Homo sapiens: one gene and its partner. The protein of the gene in region 1 purifies or fractionates together with the protein of each later gene. This does not show direct contact. Each region holds a gene or a part of one and is shown in the gene's direction. Other genes may lie near its edges.

What was found. Proteins that work in one complex are often made in the same cells at the same time.
Region 2: the proteins of FAM13B (region 1) and HIGD1A purify together in Homo sapiens (affinity purification with mass spectrometry; one large-scale study listed by BioGRID and IntAct). This does not show direct contact.

The regions. Positions count from the first base shown.
Region 1 is NC_000005.10:138,022,881-138,026,808, reverse strand, and holds part of FAM13B (protein FAM13B), read left to right. Parts: intron 1-3,928.
Region 2 is NC_000003.12:42,784,577-42,787,545, reverse strand, and holds part of HIGD1A (HIG1 domain family member 1A, mitochondrial), read left to right. Parts: intron 1-1,383; coding exon 1,384-1,518; intron 1,519-2,225; coding exon 2,226-2,275; 3' UTR 2,276-2,969. UniProt on the Homo sapiens protein: Proposed subunit of cytochrome c oxidase (COX, complex IV), which is the terminal component of the mitochondrial respiratory chain that catalyzes the reduction of oxygen to water. May play a role in the assembly of respiratory supercomplexes.

The DNA.
Region 1 (3,928 bases):
TGCCACCATGCTCAGCTAATTTTTTACTTTTAGTAGAGATAGGGTTTTACCATGTTGGCCAGGCTGGTCTTGAACTCCTGATCTTGGGTGATCCACCCGTCTCGACCTCCCAAAGTGCTGGGATTACAGGTGTGAGCCACAGTGCCTGACCAATTTTTTTTTTTTTTTTTTTTTTTTTTTGAGACACGGTCCCTCTCTGGTGCCCACGCTGGAGTTCAGTGGCATGATCACAGCTCACTGGAAGCCTCTACCTCCCTGGGCTCCAGTGATCCTTCCACCTCAGCCTCCCGAGTAGCTGGGACTGCAGGCGCATGACATCATGCCCAGCTAATTTTTGTACTTTTTTGTAGAAACGGGGTTTTGCCATGTTGCCCAGGCTGGTCTCGAACTCTGGAGCTCGAGTGATCTGCCCACCTCGGCCTCCCAAAGAGCTGGGATTACGGGTGTGAACCATCATGCCTGGCCTCTTTTTTCATTTTCTTCAGCTTTGTTGAAGTATGGTTTATATACAACAGCATGTCCAGCTCAATACGTTTTAATAAATATATTCATATGTAACTATCACTGCCACAGTTATGACATAGAACATTTTCATCACCTCAAAAAGTTCTGTGTTTCAGTTTTCTCATCAGTAAAATGGATATAATGAAAGTATTTGCCTCCTTTAGGGTTGTTGTAAGGATTAAATGAGTTGATATAGTTAAAGTCTTTGAAATAGTGCCTGGCATATTGTAAGAGCTCAGCAAATGCTGTCTGCTATTATTATCTATAGTATTGATATTGGTGCTCTACCCCTTTTTAAAAGCCCCTTACTACTAATTTTAGTAGATAGTTAAAGTGTAAAGATTCTGTGCTATTAAGAAAGGTACGTTTCATTTGTCAAAAATCAGTTGATTGTAGATGCTGTTTTGGTTAATATAGCTCTGTAGTATATTTGTAAGTTGGCTAGTGTGATGCCTCCAGCTCTGTTCATTTTCTTCAGGATTGTTTGTGTTAATCAGGGTTTTTATGCTTTTGTACAAAATTTACGGTTGCTTTTTCAGTTTCTTTGAAGAATGTCATTGTAATTTTGATGGGGAGTGCATTGAATCTGTAGACCACTTTGGATTGTATGGATATTTCAACAATATTAAATTTTTCAGCCCATGGGGGGAAAAAGGGGTGTGTGTGCTGCTACTATGTATGTGTATTTTTGTATATGTAAATGAAATTGAATGGAATGCAAAAGTACCTTGAGTCCCTGTAGAACTTAGGTTGATAGCTGGTGTATGAAGATGCACTTTCTTGAATGTCACCCAACTTTATTGATAATTGGTGTTTAATTGCATTGTTTCTGAGCCGGGAGTAGTGACTCATGCCTGTAATCCCAGTGATTTAGGAGGCTGAGGTGGGAGGTTTGCTTGAGCCCAGGAGTTTGAGGCTGCATGATTGGGCCACTGTACTCCAGCCTGGGCAACAGGGTGAGACCTCAACTCAAAAAAAAAAAAAAAAAAAATACATATATATATATATATATATATGGCTTTGTTTGTAATCACTGTTATCTCATGGTGAGGTATATGATGTAAAATTCAATGTAATTTCCTATTCCTTGTCAATAACACCATGCTAGGCAACTGTCACTTGTATTTAAAATAATTTTGCTGTTTGGGGCTGGGAGTGGTGGCTCATGCCTGTAATGCCGAGGTGTGCAGATCACCTGAGGTCAGGAGTTCGATACCAGCCTGGCCAACGTGGTGAAACTCCATCTCTACCAAAAAATACAAAAAAATTAGCCGTGCATGGTGGCACGTGCCTATGATCTCTACTACTCAGGAGGCTGAGGCACGAGAATCGCTTGAGCCCAGGAGACAGAGGTTGCAGTGAGCTGAGATCATGCCACTGCACTCTAGCCTGGGTGACAGAGTAAGACTCTGTCTCAAAAAAAAAACAAACAAAAAAAACAAACTCAAAAAACTCTCTCTCTCTCTCTTTCTCTCTCTCTCTCTCTCTCTCTGTGTGTGTGTGTGTGTGTATAAATTTTGCTGTTTAGATTTATAACAGTATGCTTTTGGAAATACTTGGTTATTTTGAAAGTCCACACATTGTATTCTCTTGTGTCAATCCTTTTATTGAACTGCTTTCTCGACATTTTATTGATTCTATCTGCTAGGACATTTTATTAGATCTTTTTGGTATATTTTTGTACGGTGCCTGCTGCTGTTTTCCTTTTTTTTCTTTTTTTTTTTTAGAATGTAATATTGTAGTTTAGGTGTTGCATTCATTTTCTAGGACTTTCATGACAAATTGCTACAAACTAGGTGGCTCTAAAATAGTAGGAAGTTTTTTCTCACAGTTGAGGAGGGTAGAAGCCCAAAAGGAAGTGTCCACAGGGCAGATTCTAGGGGAGAATCTTTCTTTGCCTCTTCCAGCTTCTGGTAGTTCCTGGCATTTCTTGGCTTCTGGCAGCATAACTCCAGTTTCTCCCTGTCTTCACATGCTCTTCTTTCTCTCTGTGTGTCTCTGTGTATCTTGTCCTCTTCTTATAAGGGCATGAGTCATTGGATTTAGGGCCTGCCCTAAATCTAGGATGATTTCCTCTTGAGATCCTTAACTAATTACACCTGCAAAGACCTTATTTCCAGATAAAGTCACATTATGAGGTTCTTGGTGGACATGAGGTTTGGGGGGGACACTATTCAACCCACCACAGATGTGAAGGGAATATTTATGTGATTTAAGCTCTGAAAAGGGGTAGGAAACAGGACTAAATAATGTCAACTACTTTGCAGTTTGCAGAAATGTTACCTTGGGCCACTCTCCAGTCTGAGAGTTCTCAGCAATGTGCTCTAGATACAAGTCCCAAGTGAAAGATTGGCTCCTGGGGTTTGGACCATAGGCCTGCCCTCTGGAAGTACCTGTTCGCAAGCTAGAAGTAAGTGATGACCTAAAATGTATATAAGACTTTGAGGCCGGGCATGGTGGATCATGCCTGTAATCCCAGGACCTTGGGAGGCTGAAGTGGGTGGATTGCCTGAGCCCAGGAGTTCAAGACCAGCCTGGGCAATGTGGTGAAACCTCATTTTTACAAAAATTAGCCGGGTGTGGTGGCCCACGCCTGTAGTCCTAGCTACTCAAGAGGCTGAGGTAGGAGGATCACGTAGGTCTGGGGAGGTTGAGGCTGCAGTGAGCTGTGATCGCATATGCCACTGTACTCCAGCCTGTCTCAAAAAAAGAAAAAGACTATGGCCAGTTTGAGCGCCAGAATGTGACATTCTATCATACTATAAATTGTGATAATTTACATGAAAAAATAGTATAGTGATTAAGAGCTCAAGGACTTTGAGAATCACATTCTCTGGTTTCATATTCTGCCTCTGACCCTTATTATCTGGGTGGACTGTGGGTAAATTGGTGAGCCTTGCAATGTCTAATTAAGGGTTAAAGAATACCTTAATACATGTAAAGTGCATGGAACTGCCTGGCATATCATAACTGCTCATTTAATGTTTGTTGCTGCTATATCCGTCAACATCCTCAGGAGAAAGAGAAACTTGTCGTCAGAAAGGTTGATGCCTCCGATTGTTTTCCTAGTATCAAGGGTAAATTTTTACTGATGAATTCATAGATTCCTACCCAGCCTCACCTTAGAAAAATATGCTTTCAGGTTGTCTAGTTAGAGGTTGCAGGTAGTAGAGGTCATGAGATGAGATAATAGGCTCCTGACTGGGAGCAGTGGCTCACACCTGTAATCCCAGCAAGGTGGGAGGGATTGCTTGAGGCCAGGAGTCTGAGACCAACCTGGGCAACATGAGACTTCCTCTCTACTAAAAATACAGCTGGGTATGGTGGTGTGTACATGTAGGCCCAGCAATTTGGGAGGCTGAGGCAGGGGATTGCTTGGGTCCAGGAGTTTGAGGCTGCAGTGAGCCATAATTGCACCACTGCA
Region 2 (2,969 bases), on another chromosome or scaffold:
GATCTCGGCTCACTGCAACCTCCGCCTCCCAGGTTCAAGCATTCTCCTGCCTCAGCCTCCCAAGTAGCTGGGATTACAGGCGCATGCCACCATGCCCGGCTAATTTTTTGTATTTTTAGTAGAGATGACCAGGCTGTTGGCCAGGCTGGTCTCAAACCCCTGATCTCAGGTGATCCACCTGCCTCAACCTCCCAAAGTGCTGGGATGATGGGTGTGAGCTACTGCTCCCAGCCCTAATTTTTTTTTCCTCCTTATGATTTGGAAGTTCTGCGGCTATTCTTACACTGCTTGCTGGTGGTTATCTTTACATTGTCAAACTAGGATGTGTTTTTTTCATCTATTTCCTGTATTAAAATGAATATAAATTTATTCCCTAAGACCTTTAGCACACGTTTTGTTGTGATAATCATAGCCTAATTTCAGATTCTTAATTTTGCTATATTATACCAGTCATTTTCAAGGAACCAGTACAGATTTTTCTGTCTTTATTGCTCACCATTATATCTTAACCATTATGTCTTTATTTCTTGAACTGTCCATTTTGACTCACTGTTTTTATTTGACTGGATATTTTCCTCTAGGTTTTTGTATCAGTACCTGGGTGGCAGCTTGGGAAAGACAGCCCTCCTGTAGTCCCAGTTATTAGGGAGGCTGAGCGAAGAGGATCACCTGAGCCTGGGAGAACAAGGCTGCAGTGAGCTATGATTGTGCGGCTGCACTCCAGCCTGGGCAACAGAGCAAGACCCCATCTCTTAAAAAATAAAATAATAAATCTTAAAAAGAAAACATGGAAGGTCATGTCCTGAATGCTTTTGCCCTCAAAATGAATGAGAGTTTGGCTCTGTATAGAACTCTAGGATCATAATCCTTTTAACTGAAACTAATATTGCTCTATTCTTTTCCTTTATTTACTTCTTCCCAGTACAATATCCCAAAGTTTGAAATATTCAGGCAATGTTTCTCAGTGGTAGTAGTGTGTAGGATTGTCTCTGGTATATTAACTGATTACCTTGAGGGAGGGAAATAGGACAGAGAGGAAATGGAATAAATTCATTCTCTAAGTCAAGACCTTTGGCACACTTTCGTTCTGATAATCATAATCTAGGTTCCTGTTAATTCCCTAGCAGTTTTTTAAAGGAGTTTATCTACTGGCCCCACAAACCCATGTTTTTAAAGATAATCCTGACTTTCTGGATCTGTTGTTGTTTGCTTAAAGATTTTTGGTTTTGATAGGGGAAAACATGAAAAACTCAATTTGTATGTTAGCTAATTAATGATCTGATAAAGAATCCTCATAAAAATAATAGAATGTACATTGACTGATGGTAAAGTCATCTTGGTCCCTTCTCATGCATCTGACATACTTGTTACTTTGTTTTACAGGAATAGCGGGTTTTGCAGCAATTGTTGCATATGGATTATATAAACTGAAGAGCAGGGGAAATACTAAAATGTCCATTCATCTGATCCACATGCGTGTGGCAGCCCAAGGCTTTGTTGTAGGAGCAATGACTGTTGGTAGGTTCCTATAGGAAATTTCAAATTTTCGTTTCTCATTAAGGTATTTCTTTACAAACAAAATAGGTAAATATTTTTAGCTGACCTTTTAGCAGTTGGAGAATATCACTTATACTCATTTTCATGTAAAAAATGAATTAATGAAGATAATTCAAGTAGTGACATAGTTTTTCTATGATATATCCTACTAAGATTTTAAAGAAAAAAAAAATCCTGTCAATCACTGAGTTTATAATTTCATTGAAGAGCCTAGACATGTAATTGGGGTTGATAGTAACATCTGTTATCTGGGAGAGACATACAATTGCTATTTTATTGTGTTTTTAAAGGAGAGATTCTTAAAGTTTAGGTATTACATGCTTCTTCTATTGGCTTTATAATTCATTGACTTTATCTGGTATTATGTAGCAAGAGTGATTCCTTTCAAAGTTACCAGATAAATATTGATTGTTCTTTCAAAGAAATATTGTAACATGTGAAGTAGCCATACCAGCCCTTTGCTACTTGGGAAACTACTGTATGTAACAAGAGTTTTAGAGATTTAAGATGTTTAAGAAGGCAAGAGTATAAGCTTCCTAGGGTCTTATTCCCCTTGTAAATATTCCATGCTAGCAGTGGTGCTACTTTCAGCTATTTTATGAACTGGTTTTTATTTTTGAATATTTAAGAAAATACTGAAATGCTTAACTAGCATTCTTTTTCTTTAGGTATGGGCTATTCCATGTATCGGGAATTCTGGGCAAAACCTAAGCCTTAGAAGAAGAGATGCTGTCTTGGTCTTGTTGGAGGAGCTTGCTTTAGTTAGATGTCTTATTATTAAAGTTACCTATTATTGTTGGAAATAAACTAATTTGTATGGGTTTAGATGGTAACATGGCATTTTGAATATTGGCTTCCTTTCTTGCAGGCTTGATTTGCTTGGTGACCGAATTACTAGTGACTAGTTTACTAACTAGGTCATTCAAGGAAGTCAAGTTAACTTAAACATGTCACCTAAATGCACTTGATGGTGTTGAAATGTCCACCTTCTTAAATTTTTAAGATGAACTTAGTTCTAAAGAAGATAACAGGCCAATCCTGAAGGTACTCCCTGTTTGCTGCAGAATGTCAGATATTTTGGATGTTGCATAAGAGTCCTATTTGCCCCAGTTAATTCAACTTTTGTCTGCCTGTTTTGTGGACTGGCTGGCTCTGTTAGAACTCTGTCCAAAAAGTGCATGGAATATAACTTGTAAAGCTTCCCACAATTGACAATATATATGCATGTGTTTAAACCAAATCCAGAAAGCTTAAACAATAGAGCTGCATAATAGTATTTATTAAAGAATCACAACTGTAAACATGAGAATAATTTAAGGATTCTAGTTTAGTTTTTTGTAATTGCAAATTATATTTTTGCTGCTGATATATTAGAATAATTTTTAAATGTCATCTTGAAATAGAAATATGTA